Homo sapiens: one gene and its partners. The protein of the gene in region 5 purifies or fractionates together with the protein of the main gene of each other region. This does not show direct contact. Each region holds a gene or a part of one and is shown on either strand. Other genes may lie near its edges. The genes, in order: HSPBP1, CCDC88A, BAG1, NCALD and METTL21A.

Evidence for each region.
Region 1: the proteins of METTL21A (region 5) and HSPBP1 purify together in Homo sapiens (affinity purification with mass spectrometry; 3 studies listed by BioGRID and IntAct, with this or other methods). This does not show direct contact.
Region 2: the proteins of METTL21A (region 5) and CCDC88A purify together in Homo sapiens (affinity purification with mass spectrometry, with the first as the bait; one study listed by BioGRID). This does not show direct contact.
Region 3: the proteins of METTL21A (region 5) and BAG1 purify together in Homo sapiens (affinity purification with mass spectrometry; one large-scale study listed by BioGRID and IntAct). This does not show direct contact.
Region 4: the proteins of METTL21A (region 5) and NCALD purify together in Homo sapiens (affinity purification with mass spectrometry, with the first as the bait; one study listed by BioGRID). This does not show direct contact.

The regions. Positions count from the first base shown.
Region 1 is NC_000019.10:55,273,592-55,277,110, forward strand, and holds part of HSPBP1 (hsp70-binding protein 1), read right to left. Parts: intron 1,032-3,519; coding exon 807-1,031; intron 1-806. UniProt on the Homo sapiens protein: Inhibits HSPA1A chaperone activity by changing the conformation of the ATP-binding domain of HSPA1A and interfering with ATP binding. Interferes with ubiquitination mediated by STUB1 and inhibits chaperone-assisted degradation of immature CFTR.
Region 2 is NC_000002.12:55,287,340-55,290,873, forward strand, and holds the end of CCDC88A (girdin), read right to left. Parts: 3' UTR 503-3,534; downstream 1-502. UniProt on the Homo sapiens protein: Bifunctional modulator of guanine nucleotide-binding proteins (G proteins). Acts as a non-receptor guanine nucleotide exchange factor which binds to and activates guanine nucleotide-binding protein G(i) alpha subunits.
Region 3 is NC_000009.12:33,258,192-33,261,710, forward strand, and holds part of BAG1 (BAG family molecular chaperone regulator 1), read right to left. Parts: intron 2,979-3,519; coding exon 2,896-2,978; intron 843-2,895; coding exon 729-842; intron 1-728. UniProt on the Homo sapiens protein: Co-chaperone for HSP70 and HSC70 chaperone proteins. Acts as a nucleotide-exchange factor (NEF) promoting the release of ADP from the HSP70 and HSC70 proteins thereby triggering client/substrate protein release.
Region 4 is NC_000008.11:101,721,456-101,724,974, forward strand, and holds part of NCALD (neurocalcin-delta), read right to left. Parts: intron 1-3,519. UniProt on the Homo sapiens protein: May be involved in the calcium-dependent regulation of rhodopsin phosphorylation. Binds three calcium ions.
Region 5 is NC_000002.12:207,618,885-207,622,403, forward strand, and holds part of METTL21A (protein N-lysine methyltransferase METTL21A), read right to left. Parts: intron 3,034-3,519; coding exon 2,922-3,033; intron 1,907-2,921; coding exon of another isoform or gene 1,857-1,906; exon of another isoform or gene 1,811-1,856; coding exon of another isoform or gene 1,757-1,810; intron 1-1,756. UniProt on the Homo sapiens protein: Protein-lysine methyltransferase that selectively trimethylates residues in heat shock protein 70 (HSP70) family members. Contributes to the in vivo trimethylation of Lys residues in HSPA1 and HSPA8.

The DNA of each region.
Region 1 (3,519 bases), on a different chromosome or scaffold from region 5:
GTTGGTTTTTGTCCCGTCCCTGTGCCCGACCTGGTGCCTGTGTCCCAGGCGGCAGTATTTGGGGGAGTCCTGGCCAGCTCTGCCCTATGGAGCTGCAGAAACCTGGCCGTGTCCCTCTGCCCACACCTCAGTTTCTTCCCCTGTCAAATGAGGATGCAAACGGTCCCTACTTCACAGGCCATTAGGATAAAAAGAATTTGTGGCTGGACATGGTGGATCACACCTGTAACCTCAACACTTTCAGAGGCCAAGGCGGGAGGATCCCTTGAGGCTAGGAGTTCAAGACTAGCCTGGGTAGCAAAGCAAGTCTTGTCTCTATATAGGTTAAATGAAAAAAAAAAGAAGAAGAAGAATTCATGTACAGCAGGGGTTCTGACCAAGGGGCTTTCTACATCTAGGGGCATTTGTGCGCTGGCAGGTGGGGTGATAGTGTCTCTCCATGGCCTGGAGGCCACCCACCAGATGCTGCTCAATGTCCTGTAGTGCACAGGACGGCCCCCGAGAGAGTGAACCAGCGCCAGTGTGAACAGTGCCCAGCTGAAAAACTGCTGTGTGCAAAGCGCTCACGCTGAGGGCCAGGTGGTCTCCCCGGGAAGTGGTCACATCTGCTGCCTGGCTAGCAGGGGGTTTGGCCGAGTGCGCCACTCACTCTGCCCGCAGCACTCAGCCGTGCAGGGGTCCAACAAGCATGGGAACAAACGAGGGAAGGAGATGCCTCTCCCTCTGCCCCAGCAGATCCCGGGGGCCCACCCGGCACCCCCCCCCACCGCCAGCACCCCTGTCCCCAGCCCCACCCGGACACTCACAGGAGATGGCGAAGAGGGCCTTGACGCGCACCGTGTCGCAGGCGTCGCGGTCCAGCAGCCGCAGCAGCTTACGCAGGGCACCCAGGCCCAGCACCTGCTCCTGGATGGCTGCCACGTTCTGACTGCACGTGCCGATGAGCTGTGCCGCCCGCCACCGCAGTCCCGCAGCCCCCGCCTCCAGGTACCGGCCCACCAGCAGGTGCATGCCAGACAGCTGGCAGAAGTCTGTGCCACAGAGGGGAGCAGAGAGAGGCCAGATGTTAGGGACTGAACCGTGCCCCCCAAAATGCATGGGTTGATGTTCTGACCCCCAGTACCTTGGAATGTGACTGTTTTTGGAGATGGGATCTTTAAAGAGATCATTAAGGTAAAATGAGGTCCTTAGGGTGGGCCCTAATGCAATCTGACTGGCGTCCTGATAAGAAGAAGAGATGAGGACACAGACACCCACAGAGGGACAACATGGAGGGAGGACACAAAAAATGCCTTCTGCAAGCCAAGGAGAGGGGGGCTCAGGAGAAACCAGCCCTGCCCACACCCTGATCTCAAACTTCTAGCCTCCAGAGCCGTGAGAAAATACATTTCTGTTTTTAAAGCCAGTAGTCTGTGGTGCTTGGCTAAGGTGGCCCTAAGCTGACCACTACAGCTGCTGAGGCCGGGAGAGCCAGGCCGGCTCCCACAGGGACGCAGCTCTCTCCAAACACCCAACCAGAGGTCCCCCCAAGGCTAGTACAACTCGATTCCATCAGCATTTGGGGCATTAGGGCCCCAGGCTCCAGACTACTAAATGCCAGGACTGATCCTGGTCTTTGTGACAATCTGAATGTCCCCAGGGTCAGCAAACCACAGCCCACCTCCTGTTTTTGTAAATAAAGTGGTATTGGAGAGCGTGGCAGTTCCTAAAAAAATGAAATACAGATTCCCCGTGACCCAGCAATTCCGCACCAAGGCACAGACCCAAAAGAACCAGAAGTAGGGACTCAGATACTTATATACTCAAGTTCATGGCAGCATCATTCATAAATGACCCAAATGTCCTTAAAGGATAAAGGGATAAATATAAACTGCTCTAGCCATACAACGGAGTATTACTCAGCCATAAAAAGGAATGAAGCAGCTGGGCGTGGTGGCTCAAGCCTATAATCCCAGCACTTTGGGAGGCCAGGGTGGGCAGATCACTTGAGGCCAGGAGTTCGAGACCAGCCCAGGTAACATAGCAAAACAGGGTTTTTGCTATGTTATATACTAAAAATACAAAAATGCCAGGCCTGGCCAGGTGCGGTGGCTCATGACTGTAATCCCAACACTTTGGGAGGCCAAGGTGGGTGGATCACGAGGTCAGGAATTCAAGACCAGCCTGGCCAACATGGTGAAACCTCATCTCTACTAAAAATACAAAAATTAGCTGGGCATGGTGGTGGGCGCCTATAAGCCCAGCTACTCAGAAGGGCAAGGCAGGAGAATCGTTTGAACCCGGGAGGCACAGGTTGCAGTGAGCTGAGATCGCGCCATTGCACTCTAGCCTGGGCAACAGGGTGAGACTCTGTCTCAGAAAAAAAAAAAAAAAAAATTTGCCAGGCCTGATGACATGCACCTGTAATCCCAGCTGTTTGGGAGGCTAAGGTATGAGAATCACTGAAACCCAGCAGGTGGAAGTTGCAGTGAGCTGAGATTGCACCACTGCACTCCAGCCTGGGAGACTGACTCAAAAAAAAAAAAAAAAAAAAAAGGAATAAAGCTCTGACACACGCCACAACATGGGCACGCCGCCTTTAGCACAATCAGCCAGACACAAAAGGTCACGTTATAATCATCTATATGAAATGTCCAGAACAGGCAAATTCATACAGCCAAAACGCTGATTAGTGGTTGCCAGGGGACCGGGGGAGGGCCGGCCTAATGGGTGCTGGGTCTCCTTTGCAGGCAATGGAAAAGTTCTGGAAATAGAGGTGGTGTTGCACAACATTCTGAATTGACTGTAAGTGGTATAAACAGTCATATGGGAGGATGTTCCCCTCAGCCCACCTTCATCAGCACTGTGCATCTTCATTAAGACAGAGAAGATACACATATATATTTATATTTATATACACAGAGAGCGCACGAGGCCAGGGAGGAAGTGGTATCTTTGGCTTTCGTTCTCATTTGATTACTAATAAGGTGTAAAATTGCTGCTGCTGTGATGATTGGACACTCAGCACAGTGCTTAGCACACAGCAGCTGCTCAACAGATATTTCCTGAACAAGCAAAAAATGAATGAAAGAGCAAAGTCGTTAAAAGCCATCCTGCGGATTGGAGCAGGAGTTCTCTGCCCGGATAAGACGGGGAGACACTGGGGAAAGGTAAGCTAGAGGGTGGCGGCTGCACTGCAGGTCTTCTCGGGGTGCTGCATGCGCTCACAGAGGAGGGCTTCCCAAACTCCGTCCAGCCCCTGTCCAAAATGAAGACACCTGACTCCCAGGCCTGACACGTTACGTTTACTCTGTGCCTGGTGTTGTGCGGGCCTGGGGGTTTCTCTCGGCCCAGCCTGCGTACAAGAGGAAGTAATCAGGACCTGCCCAAACCAGACTGCCATGTAGCAGCACAGCCTGAACTATGAACCAAGGAAGTGACACCCCAAATCCACACCCTCAATTGCTACACCACCCAACCCCTCCAAATGGAAGTGAGCTCTCCTCAAACCTTCTGTGAGCTCTGCTGCTTGGAGTAAAA
Region 2 (3,534 bases), about 150 Mb from region 5:
GTTGTGTTACTAAAAGGCAAAATAAAAGTAATGACTTTATTCTAAGGTTCCTCTTAGTTTTTACATACTCGGTATTCTATCTCTAACACAAAGTAGCCGTTTTAGGTTGCTTTGCATATGAAATGAAGGTACTAATGAATACACAGAAATTAAGTACCTTAGGTATCTGGTCTAATTGCCCTCCCCACCTTATAGTGAAAACAGGCCCAGAAAAACTGACCAGCCCAAGGATGAGGCCAGTTCCTTTGTCTCCCAAAGTCTAAGTGAAAATGGGAGATTCATTTGTGCAATCTATTAGATTACATTTAAACCTATTTTGGGACTGATAAAATTGACAGATGCTCTTTCTCTCCAAACCCCTAATACTTATCACAAAATGATATGACAGAATCAACTAAACAAGGTCATGGGTTATGTCTGACGATAGTTCTCTAGGGAAAATGGAAAGAAATAAAATAACACTTGGCTAAAATGATATCATTTTTAAATGATTACTAACCAGTTGTTACAAAAATCACCTCTTGGTTTTATTTCTTTTTATATTAGTTTGATACGTGAATGTTAGTCCAACTTAATTTTTGAAGGAGAAACAAAATGAAAAATGTTTTTTAAAAAACAAACAGTGGTATCTCTTGTCATGAGTTGGATGCCTGTGACTGACATCAGGTATTGCCAAGTAATAAACATTTTGCCATTCAACTCTAAATCCCTTATTAGCATTAGTTTTAAAGGAAATGTTACAGCTTTTATATTATTTGATTTGGTATTTAATAACAGTTATAAGTACAATGGTAGACACTGAAAAAGAAAACCCTTAATAGAAAAGAAAAAGACAATTTAAAATTAGATTTTGTTGAAGGGTGTTATAAGTGCAACTTTATCCATATGCATTCCTTTTAAGGCATTTTCATTGTCCAAATATCTCAACATGTACATCAAGGTTTATATTATAAAATGGGCTCCTTTTGTATTCATTCAAGACTTAAAGAAAAAATACATCTCAGGACTAAGTGTAGCTGAAAAGAAAAACACAAAAATTCACCACTCACAAAAAGTAACTTAAAATACAAAAGTCATTTAGTATACATTATTACTCCCCATTGTAATTCCAGATTTGGTACAGTATCTTTTTCATTTCCTGACATAAACCATTAAGACAGCACAGGCTGTAGTACTTCATTGTGAGGTGGCTACAACTCTATAATATGCACAGTGATTTTAAAATAGGCTTTTTGCATGCCTTGCATGAAAGGTGCTACATACAAACCTGTTTTGTGAACTCTTTGGTAACCACCAATTTAAAAATTTGGATGAAAGCATTTCCACATGGACAGATCTGAAGCACATTATTGGAGCTCTGAGCCAAAGCTATTACCCTGTATATTGATTCTTCAGTTTCCTTGAGGGGTTAGGTGTTGATTTAGAATACAGCCAGATAATTTAAAGCATGTCAGGCCCCGGTTAGGAAAATGAAAATGGCTCCGATTCGTTTCCAGTTGGCTTTATTATTGTTTGGCAGAAGTTGTTTAGGGGAGAAGAGTGGCTTCCTACAAAGTTTGCTTCTCAAGGTATACTGGAGAAAGTAAAATATTCATGTGGTTACTACTGTCTAGTCGTTTCTTGAAATGGTATGAAAAAAGTGTGATGAATATAATTGAGATTATTCATATTTTTGTAGTCTCAATGTGTTCCCTTGGTTGTCTCTTTAATTGTCCCTTCTCAGGGTCAGCCTACTCAGATTCAGTACTTTACACGTTGTTTTCAGCATTTTCTGCTTGAAGCACTAATGCACTTAACCCAGCATGTTCTGTATTTTAGGATATTAGTGTTCTGGAGAGGTCAAGCTGTAATGTCATTCGCCCTCATTGGGCTACATCACCACCCATTAAATTTCAGCTTTTCAGTAATTGTTCTGGGATGTGTTCTAGTTGTGCAAATTAGATGCTAGCTAATATAAATCTAAGTTACCCACTAACTGTATTTAGCCATAACATAATTTCTATGTTTACTTTTATCCACCTAAAAATGAATGTACATTTTTTGACATGCAATTGTCTCTAGACTGCTCTGATACCTATTACCAATGTGCTACTTGAATCCAGGGAGTTATGAGAGAGAGAGATGTTTCAAAGTCTACGGAAAAGGTTTTAGATATTTCTGTTGTGCATTATTTTTGTATGTTAGTAAGAATCCTTTGTATTTCCATTTACATAGCACCTTTCATCCAAGATTTTCAAAATGATTTAACGTTAACAGCATTTGGTGGTAAAACCTAAGTTACCGGTGGCATTGAAGTACGTAAGTAAGCTCAAGTTCTCTAAGTTCCATTTCAATTTAAACATGCTCTCTTTTTTATTGATGGTCTTTTGGAAATTAGACTGTGAACACAACATTGCTACTGGCCTACGAAAGAGAGAGAGAAAGAGGGAGAGAGAAAGAGAGAGAGAGAGAGAGAGAGAGAGAGACTTTTCTTATGGTTACTGGGTTAGTGATGAAACCCACAACTCATAAACCACACACTATGGAATATGGAATTATTCCAAAAAGTTCTTCAGAGCTGGTAATGAAAGCCTAAGAAGTACACTGTTAAAATTTTAAAAAGTCAGTATGTTTCTCATTTCAGACCTTGAAGATTACTCTGATATTGATGTTAAATAATGAATTTGCATTAATGAGTATCAATGCATTTTTTGATTTCATAAGAAAATAAAACTGTGATATAAAATTGGAACTACTAAAAAAATTGATGTTTCCCTGGGTTAACTAAATCTATTTTTTTGTGCTTCTTCCAAATGTTTAAAGGTAACAAATGCATACAAATATTTCAAAAGTACCAATAACAGTTATCAACTTTAATGTAATATCATAAAGGAGAAAAAAATCATTAATAAATGATAGCCTTAATTATAAATGAGTTTCTGGCAAAATGCAGATCATAGTAACTTATTTACATTATTTTTGCCATAAGAAAACTTCTTAAGCAACAGTCAGCTCTCAAGTTAAAAAAATGCACACGCATACATAACCCAATACCAAAGAAAAGAAATGAGTTAAAGCACAACAGCTTTATCTTGGGAATGCCATTTGCTGAAAAACCATCTTACTAAAAAAAAGTTTCAGAAAAACACTCTTTACCATGGGTTAACTTATGAATGCTTAGTGTTGCTTAATGGGAAATATGGAAAGATTAATATCACTATAAATTTTTTATAACTCCTATTTCATTATGGATTTTTCAGATTTATCTTATAAACTGAATTTCTTTTGCATCAAAATAATTGGCTTTAAGAAAAAAAAAGTATCAACACATGCAGTCTGCTAACCAAATAAGGCTCTGACATGCCAAAACAATTTTCTCTGTATCTTGCTATATAGTACATTCCACAAAATACTACAGCATTTAATTTAGGTTTACACAACTAAATATAAATGGCTAGATTTTGGCTAACACTTAGCAGAAGCATTAAGCAAACATGGATAAATTCATAAAACAAATGATGAAAAAAGCAGATTGTTCTTGGAGTACTTCTTTAA
Region 3 (3,519 bases), on a different chromosome or scaffold from region 5:
AGGCTGAGGCAGGAGAATCACTTGAACCTGGCAGGCAGAGGCTACAGGGAGCCACTGAGATTGCACCACTGCACTCCAGCCTGGGTGACAGAGCGAGACTCCATATCAAAAAAAAAAAAAAAAAAAAAAAAGCCAAAACACAAACACACCCCAATTAATGCTATAAAATGAGAGGGAAAAATAAATAAAAGTGGTCTTGAGCTAGTCCTAATCCTTACTGGGTTTTAGTACCCCATCTCTAATATAAGGAATTGAATAGGATGACTCCCCCAACCCCACTATCATGTTCAACTTGGACCTTCTATGAACCAACAAAATGTTATTTGCCTTGCCAAACACATTACAACAGCCCAGAGAGAAGCTACTTGTTCTATTTCAGACAATACATGATCCTAGCAAGGCAGGTGCTCTCCTGTGAGCATAAATGGATGCTGGCTGGGGTTTGACAATAACTATGACAATAAATGCTTATAAAGCACTTAGTATGTGTCAAGCTCAATCTACATTATTTAATTCTCCCAACAATCCTAATAGGGAAATGTCACCATTATTCCATTTTTACAGATGAGGAACTTGAGACAAAGATAAACTTGTTCACAGTAAGAGAAAGGGTGAATCCAGGATCTGAACCCAGGGAGTCTGACTGCAGAACATGTCCCCATAACCACAAGTTATATCCAGGAAGCTCTGATAGAAGGCAGAAAGTTAAGGTCCATGAAGAGAGTTACCTGCTGGATTCCAGTAAGCTCTTTATTCAACTCTTCCAGCTGGTCAGCTATCTTCTCCACAGACTTCTCCAAATGTTTCAACTTCTTTAGTTCAACCTCTTCCTGTGGACTGTTCTAAAATGTTTAAGAAGAAAATAAAGCCAATAGTCAAAAAGAACAGGCTGGGCATGGTGGCTCATGCCTGTAATCCCAGCACTTTGGGAGGCCGAGATGGGCAGATCATTTGAGGTCAGGAGTTCAAGACCAGCCTGGCCAACATGGTGAAACACTGTCTCTACTAAAAAAACAAAAAAATTAGCCAGGCATGCTGGCGTGCACCTGTAGTCCTAGCTACTCGGGAGGCTGAGGCAGGAGTATAGCTTGAACCTGGGAGGTGGAGGTTTGTAGTGAGCTGAGATCGTGCACCTGTACTCCAGCCAGGGTGACAGAGCGAGACTGTCTCAAAAAAAAAAAAGAAAAAAGAAAAAGCAATCAACAAGAACAGCAGCCTCTGTCAGGAAAAATACCTGACCACACCTGCATGAAGCCACTCACCTAGAAATAACAGTTTTAACTCTGTTGCTTCTTGGAAATCAAGTCAAAGGGTTATACATCAAGTTTTCCATCTACAAAGACTCCAGACTAGAGAGAAGGTGTTAGGTAAACATTCTGGTGAGGGCCCTGACAGCTTGGGTGCAGAGAATGGAGACAATCCAAGTGCCAGATTCAGTCTCAGCCCTATACTGATCAACAACCAAGACTGAAGCCTGGAGGGTAATCACATTTCAGTAAACACTTGTGAGGAGTCCAGAATGGCAAGAAAGGTGGAATTCTACCATTCCTTTAAATGGAATTCCTAAATGGCAGCCTCCAATTGAGCGCTCCTGTTTAATGTGATGCTGGTTAACAACGATGAATACTTTTATTGAACACTTCCTACATGCCACACACTATCCTAAGCACCTTACCTATTTTTTAAGCCTTACCACAACTCCATCAGGGAAGTACTGCTGTTTTACAGATGATGAAACTGAGGCTTAATGTAGTAAAGTAACATGAGATCACACAGTCCAAAAGAGGTAGATTAGACTTAAGTTCAGACTTTTTTCTTTTTTGAGATAGGGTCTCACTACGGTTCCCAGGTTGGAGTGCAGTGGCTGTTTACAGGCATGATCATAACTCACTGCAGCCTCAAACCCCTGGACTCAAGTGATCCTCCTGTCTCAGACTCCCAACTTGCTGGGACAATAGGCATGTGCCATGGTGCCTTCCTTGAGTTCACACTTCGCTCCATACGCTCTGTGTCAGCTCCAAGTAAAAGTCCTATAGTTTCTTCAAACTTGACTCTTTGGTTCTGCCTGTTGCCCATCACCATTCTCCCTGACCCTGAAGCAAGAAATTTAGAATATTTCCCTCTTCTCTCAGGTAAACAATTGATAGATAGGTCTAGCAGCTTTCTGCTTAGTTATGCTATCCCAAATTATTCACTTCTCTTTGTGGCAAGTCCTGAGTTCCAGTCTCCTGGCAGTTCCAAGTCTGGATTAGATTTTTTTTGCCTTCACTTTGTTTATCTGCCCTCTCTCTACTCAGCCACCTAACTCACAATAAGGGAACTTCATATGCTCATAATTCTGCTGTGTCACAATGCAGGGCTGGCCACAGCCCTCTCTCATCACCTTAAGGGTTGCTGACCTCATCTGTCTTTTTTTCCCCTCAGTTCTTTAGTCTGAACCTTCCTTTCCAGTCGAAGGTTTTCCCTTGTGGGAGATTTTAGTTAAAAGGTTGGTTAAAGGGAGAGAGGCTCCTGAACTGGAACAGAGTGATTATTCTTAATATCTACAAGTTTATTTTAACAAAAGACTCTTGCAAATTCTACTCCAAGTGAATGAGACCTGTCCCAGGCACCATTTTAACCAGACCAAGATTCCACCACCAAAACAAAAAACATATTATTAAGGCAGCACAACCGCTCCTAATTCCTAGAGCAAAAGTTCTAACCAACAGGAGCAGGAGGGTATGAGAACAACAAAACTGGTAATCCTGTAAAACCAATAAAGATTGTATTTGTTTAGAGAGGTGTTTTATCAATGCAGAATCTGGGTCCCCAGTTTGGTCTTCTAAACAGAAACATGTATAAAAGACTTCAGTCATTTGATTCTGAGGATTTCTGATGGAAAAAGCAATTTACCTTTTTCCCAATTAACATGACCCGGCAACCATCTTGTATTCCAAGTGCTGACAACGGTGTTTCCATTTCCTTCAGAGATTTTCCTAAAAAGAGGAGAAAGGTAGGCCAAGTTGTAATAATTGTACAACACTGAAAATAAATTTCAGCAGGATACAGGAAATAGACAAGTGTGTTCACTAATGAGAACTGGTATCTTTTTAGAGGGTGTCATGACCCAGTAATTTCATTTCCAGATATTTATCCTAAACAAATAATTGGACATGCGACTCCACAGTAACTACTATACGATAATATTCAGTGCAACCTTTTCATAATAGTGAGAAACTGGAAAGAGCCAAATATTCAGGAATCAGGGACCAACGAACCACACTACAGAAGACTTTAAAGTCTTCAGTAGGCATTAAGGTCTACAGTAGCCATTAAAGCTCATTTTTTGCAGGAAACCCCAATACCACAATGAATGCTGATGACACAGTGTTATTATGAGGGGTTTTATCCAGGGGAACATTTTCTTTTTCATGCATTCCTCTATTTTGAAACATGAATTTCTATTGTCTTTATAATTCAGAAATAAAATATTTTTAAAAATTAAAGACAATATGTTACACTATGAAATATAAATAA
Region 4 (3,519 bases), on a different chromosome or scaffold from region 5:
TTGGAAAAGGAGGCTCACTGCCAGAAGCACGGGGGCTTGGTTTTCAGAACGCTATTTTACACACTGAAAACTATCTGGTGGTTAAGACTTGAGCTTAGGATCTCTTATATTGAATTTAGTGAGGCCTGTCTGGTGGCCTCACTAAAAATAAACTTCTACGGGGTGGTGTTTGTATCTCACGCTACTCAAACTGCTTGCATAATACTCATGGTTCAGATAATGACCAGCAATCCTCATTCATTGCCAAGTTTATTGATTTTGTTTTCTGACTTCTGCACTGGAGGCAAAACCTGCCCTGCTCATATGCAGGTGTCCAAAGTGATGGGAGTATGGGGCACTTCACCTATGAGTATGGCCAACTGCTGTAGGAAGGAACTTACTTTTTGGGTTCCCCCTGCCTTTTTTTTTTTTTTTAAGACTCTGTCACTCAGGCTGCAATGTGCTGGTGCAATCATGGCCCACTGCAGCCTCAAACTCTTGAGTTTAAGCAATCCTCCTGCCTCAGCCTCCCAAATAGCTGGTATTACAGGTGTGTACCACCATGCCTGGCTAAATTTTTTATTTTTTGTAGAGATGGGGGTCTCACTTTGTTGCCTAGCCTGGTCTCAGACTCCTGGGCTCATGCCGTCTTCCAAATTGCTGGGATTGCAGGCATGAGCCACCACGCTTGGCCCAGAGTTCCCTCTTTAGGCAGAATCAAGCAAACACCATTTTATGCAAAAGCAAAATTCAACTGCAACTCAAATGGAGAACAAATGGAATTTATAAATTGAACAGTCTAATATCTTTCACTTCCCTCTGTGTCCTTTTTTTCCCCTGGAGATTAAAAAAACAGAGTTACAGAGGCTGGTTTGTATTAGAATTGTAAAGCTGTCATTTAGTTGCTAAGTTGGCAATTTGCCTGAGGCCAGAATTCAGAAACATCCGGTAATACATAATACCCGGCTTTCTAGAGCTCTGAGACATTTTATGGAATTTACAAGTAATTTCAAGTTTTCCTTTTGGGGAGTTCTTTAGAATATATCTCTTTGGTGTGGTTTTCAATCAAATCACCATTTTTACAGTTTGTGCAAATTGCTGCTTGCCTGGCCTTGGGGAAAAATGCCATTCTGATATTTAAATCTACTCTCTTAAAGAATGATTTATGTCTCCAATGTATAAAGCACTGTTTCTTCACAACCAAACTTAAGTGCCTTTCCCAGTGTTTAAAAAGTGCTTCAAATTTATTAGCTGCTTTTGCACTAGAAACAAATTGCCTCAACATTTTAGCTAAGTCTCCCACTGAGACTGATCTGTGTGCAGCTATTTTTTGGTAAACAGTAATTAAACCACATTTACAAATTCATCAGCACAGAAAGGCCATAACACAAACAAGTCAGAAAAGCATGGAATAAGTTATTGGGAAAACGAGTGTTCACAATTAAGCCTAGAATTCATCTACAAACACTTTACTAAGTATGAGGACTAAACTTGAGACACCATCTGGACTTGGTTAGATGGTACAACACAAATCTTAGGGGACATTTGACAGAGTTTCATTCCTTAGGTGGTGAGGAGGAAGACAGAGGGAAGCCTGACAATACCTTTTTCTTTGGGAAGACAGGAATTTCTGCCCGTTTGAGTCGAAGGGATGGGGCAGGATAACATTAGGGAAATGCTACAGTAATTGGCAGTTAAGAGAAAAACAGTTTGGAGACAAAAATTGCACCTTGGGTCAAATCGTTTTCATAACTCCAGTCAGTCATTAAAACATTTATTTTGTGCTAGTTGAACATAGGTATGACAGGCTGTCTTTTAATAATTTTTTCTCTATTAAGTTAATTGCAGTATTATTTCACCGTCGCCATTTACATTTACTTTTCAGGTATCAGAGACTTATTGCTTTAAGTAGCAAATTACCTAAATTATGAACACATATTTTCAAAACACAAAATTGAGTTCAAAATTACCAAGTGTATATATACTGTGCAGAAGATTAAAAAAACTGAATTAGCATATATTTCTTTTCTAAAGTTCCTATGAAGAACTTACACTCTCCTATACTATCAATCCATTCTGTATATTTAAAATAACATTTGTTTTTATTTAAATAGTCAAAAATATAATGGCTTACACTTTTGTAAGACTAACCAATAAAAAAAGGACTCCAATTTTAAACCAATCCCTGAAACCAAAGCATCAAATATTTTAATATTAGTTCAATATTTCTACATAGCACAATAAGGTTTTCGCAAACAGTAACTCAAAGTTTTGTCTTTATTTTTAATCACGGGAATGGCCTACAATTCAGATAAGCCCACAAATTCATACTATCTTATAAACAGCAGTAACATTAATATAAACAATGTTAATTCAGTTATCTTAGGGGCCTTACCATATCATTAACCTATTTACAGAACAAAAATGTTTCTATGAAAGCTAATATATCTTTTCATGTTTGTTTGTTGTTAAGTGTGCTACAACAGAAATAGAGGTAGAATCACATTTTTCTTAAGTAACACTCTATAAGCCAATTCTACACAATTAAGGCATTTTTGCAATCTAAAATAGTAATGCTAATACTGCTTCAGTAAACTAGATTTACTAATTTAAGAATCCTAAGAAATTACGTATATGTGACTTTCAGACATCCATGTTAAACTACCAACTAATCAAGTTGTGGAACTGTTGTTCTCTGCTCACACTTAACATTCTTGAATGACCATAAAGTGGATAATGCTAAAATTTTTTCTAATCACAGTTTTTCTTATAAGTGACTATATGATATTTTACCATTTCTAAGAGGAAAAAATGAGACCTACTTGGCAGTCTGCATAGGCTGGTGGAAACTATAATCAGAGTGTAAAGACAAATCTTCAAGTGACTCAAAAAAGTTTGTAGATAACTCAGAATATAATCTGTTGGGAACTATGACACGTTGGCCTCCTGGATGTCCTGTTGGATGAACACTGGAAAAACACTAGAATAAAAATGCTTGGCTTCAAAGCCTGGCTCTATTGTTTACTAGCTGGTGGGTAATTCACTTAACATTTTGGTTCTCCTCAGTTTTCTCATCTGTAAAATGAGTTTAATGATATGAGTTCATCTCTTATTGATTCCATGTGAGAGTTAAATGAGACAGTCAAACATGTAAAGCTCTGGCATTCAGTCAGGGCCAGACGCTGCCATAAATGAAAATGATGCCTTATCCTAGATGATCTTTCATGTGACATCCTATTAAACTTTCACAACCTGTGTGATAGGCAGGCAGGCTTTCTCTATCTCATAAGCAAATAAATGAAAACTCAGAGAGGCTAGGTGACTTATTCCAGGTGACACTGCTTGTGAATGAGAGAGCCTAACTGTGAGTGTGGGCTGCTGCTTGGTTGCCCAGTGGTTTTAGCCCTATGCTCTACTAGCCCCAAGGACAAAGCATTTATAGAGATTAAGACAACAATCCATAAAAAGTCAGAAAGAAGTAGTGAAGAAGAAGGAGACAACCTCCTTTTGGAACTCATTTATTCCACAAACAGGCACTAA
Region 5 (3,519 bases):
GGAGATTTTCAAACTAAGAACGAGGATTTGAGAGTCAGATTGGATTCAAATTCTAAGCACAATCCATTAGCTTTGTGACCTCAGGCAAGTTACTTACCCTCCAAGAAGCCTCCCTTTCACCACTGGAAGGGCGCTATAAGTAGGTAAGGCCTACTTACCATGCAGGGTGACTGTGAGAATGAAAGGGTGTAATGCACAGTCCTCAGAACACAGGAACTACTCAGGAATTAGCAGCTGGTTTTTAACAGGAAAGTCTCATCACCCTATATTAATATCTACATAGCACCGCTTTTTTTTTTTTTTTTTAATCTTCTTTCTTTACCTCTACCCACTAAACTCAGAACGTAAGCTTCCGGAGACACCTGCCAGCCTGTTTATTGCCCCATCCACAGTGGACCGCCAGGCTTCTGGTGGGTTCTCCCCAAATTCAGGAATAAATGACTAAGGTTACAAAAAGAGAATATACTTTAAAAAGAATAATAATTAATCTCTTCCTGACATTTCAAAATCACTACCTATTCTAGTACTCACTGATTCTATTTTGAAGAGACTAACATTTTCTTACCCTCAGGCTCCAACAGCAAAACTTCTCCAACCTAACACTTTGTAGTGACTACAAATAGTGAGTATGAAAATCATACAGTAGCAGAGAAATGCTTATGACATAATGTGAAAACATCATTTGTATAGGTGTGTGTATACGGATACACAAAACACACATACGCAGACATATATATTTACATATATATAATCATAATTACAACTATGATTAAAAATACAGATGGAGAGAAACAAAACATACCAAAATGCTAATGGTAACTCTGGTGGTATCTGAAATATCTTATTCTGACTTTCCCAACCCCAGAGAACCAGATTGCTAGATCAGAAAAAGCAGTTACTCAGAGAGTAATCAACACTCGTGGAGCACTTCCTTTGTGTCACTCAGTGAGCCAGCAGATGTTATACACGCAATCTCATTGGTTCCTCACTGTGGAGTAAATATTACTATTATGCACAATGTACAGATGGGGTAATCAATGTTTAAAGGTTAAGCAACTTGCCCAAGGTCACACGACTAGTAAGAATGAAAAGAAATGTCAAAACCAAGTATAACTAAGCCTATGCACTTTGCTACACTAACATGTCTATACACCAGCCAAGAAAGTTTTGCATGAAGCCCTGGTTCTCAGGAGGAAACAGAAGAAACCTCATTTCCCCTTATAGTAACTCTTATATCAGCAGAGAGAGAAGTTGGTGTTACAGAAAAAAATAAAACAGGCCAGGCACGGTGGCTCACTCCTGTAATCCCAGCACTTTGGGAGGCCAAGGTGGGCAGATCACCTGAGGTCAGGAGTTCGAGACCAGCCTGGCCAACATGGTAAAACCCCATCTCTACCAAAAATAAAAAATTAGCTGGGCGTGGTGGCACATGCCTGTAGTCCCAGCTACTAGGGAAACTAAGGCAGGAGAATTGCTTGAACCCGGGAGGCGGAGGTTGCAGTGAGCCGAGATCATGCCACTGCACTCCAGCCTGGGCAACAGAGTGAGACTCCATCTCAAAAAATAAATAAATAAAATAAAATAAAATAAAATAAAATAAAACAACTAACTGTGTCTAACAAGCCTGGTTTTGAGTCCCAGATCTCCAGTGATCAGGACTTCAGAAAGTAGCTTCATCTCCCAGAATCCCAGCTTTGTTTGAAAAATGAAAATTAAAAATAATACCTAACATACACGGGAATGTTCTAAGGCTCACCTGAAAAGAATAAAAGGCAGTGTACCAGCAAGGGCTTCATCGATGACTTAAGTGCTGTGGTTGAAGACGGACGGAAACCTCTGTCAATTTACACAGACTTTCAACCACCACCCCTGCCCATGCTCCCTGTCGAATTTTGGAAAGCAGCAGCTAAGCAGAAAAAGAAATAGTGAAAAAGTATTGGGTTTCTGGAAAACAGGCAGGACAAAAGAGGGGCTTTAGCTGGTCCTCAAATATCTGTAGACAATGCGATGGGTTTAGAATACTCTGGAATCCTGGATCCTTCCTACCCAAGTGTAGTCTGAGAACCAGCAGTGTCGGCATCACTACTGACATTTCTACTGCTTGTTAGAAATGCAGGTTCCCAGGCCCTGGTCCAGCCCTGCCAAATCAGAATCTGCATTTTAACAAGAGCACCAGGTGACAATATGGAAGTGATAAACATTATACATTGTATCTTGAAAGCTGGTCTACCCTTATGATTAGATAGCTTGAACTATATATGTCAGAAGTTATAGAAATGAGTCAATAGTCAATAATAAAAATAACAATGAAGCCTAAAAATGCTCTAGCTCCAAGCCTCAATTAATGTGTGTATACCAAATTTTAAAATGACAAACTTTGATATCAAGTCAGAACTGTATACTGTTCATACAATTTTAAAAATAAGAAGTCAGTACAAACTATAGTGGGGGCTAGCCCTCCCTACAAGAGAAAAACCAGCAAAGTTTCCTCAGCAATGAAGAAAAGACTATCTGCTCTATCTCCCTCACAGGGTTAAATCAGATAGTGTATGGGAAAGAAAGCCCCTGAATGTGAAAAAAACTCTATACATGGGTAAGATTATTCTCCTTGAATCAACTCACTTTAAGATCGTATTATTGGCATCACAGAATTGAAGGGGGCAGAGCAATCTCCCATGGGAAGTATAAATAACAGAGTGTGTGTGTGTGTGAGAGAGAGAGACAGAAATTAGAGAGAGAGAAATTAGCCCGTTAGCCTCACTGGAGTTAAGAACCCCAGCAGTTGGCCCACAACTCATAAGTATAAGCAAAAGATAATAACCCAGTAAGGGGAAAACCCACGAAGGGTTTTGCGCTAAGAAAACAGCAAATGCACCTCTCAATGAGTTCTGCTCACTAAGGAGTCAATGCATGACACTCACCCAGCAGGGCAGCCACTATGCCCACCAGCCCCGTGCCAGCACCCAGCTCCACGGCAGAGCGGCCCCTGAGCTCCACAGCTCCCATCTCCAGGTATGTGGAAAGAACGATGGCCTGAATGAAAACACAGTGTGATGACGATTAAGGTCAACATGTGCTTGAGTAGCTGCAGGGTTTCAGGTCAGCTACACCCACCCCTCTCCCACTTCGAGGTTCAATTCCCAGCTTAACAACACACACAGGAACTTAGCTGGTGCAGCAAGGTAACCTCCCCCTTAGAGCAAGCACAGGGTCCCACAGCAGTGCCCAGAGATGATGCCCACACTAAATGGGGTCCTGCTGGATCTGGAAAGCTTAATTTTTTTTTTTTTTTTTTTTTGAGATGGAGTCTCAGTCCATCTGTCACCCAGGCTGGAGTGCAGTGGCACAATCTCAGCTCACTGCAACCTCCACCTCCCAAGCTCAAGCGATTCTCCCACCTCAGCACCCCCAGTAACTGGGACACAGGCGTGCACCACCACACCCAGCTAATTTTTGTAGTTTTTTTGGTAGAGATGGGGTTTTGCCATGTTGGCCAAGCTGGTCTTGAACTCCTGAGCT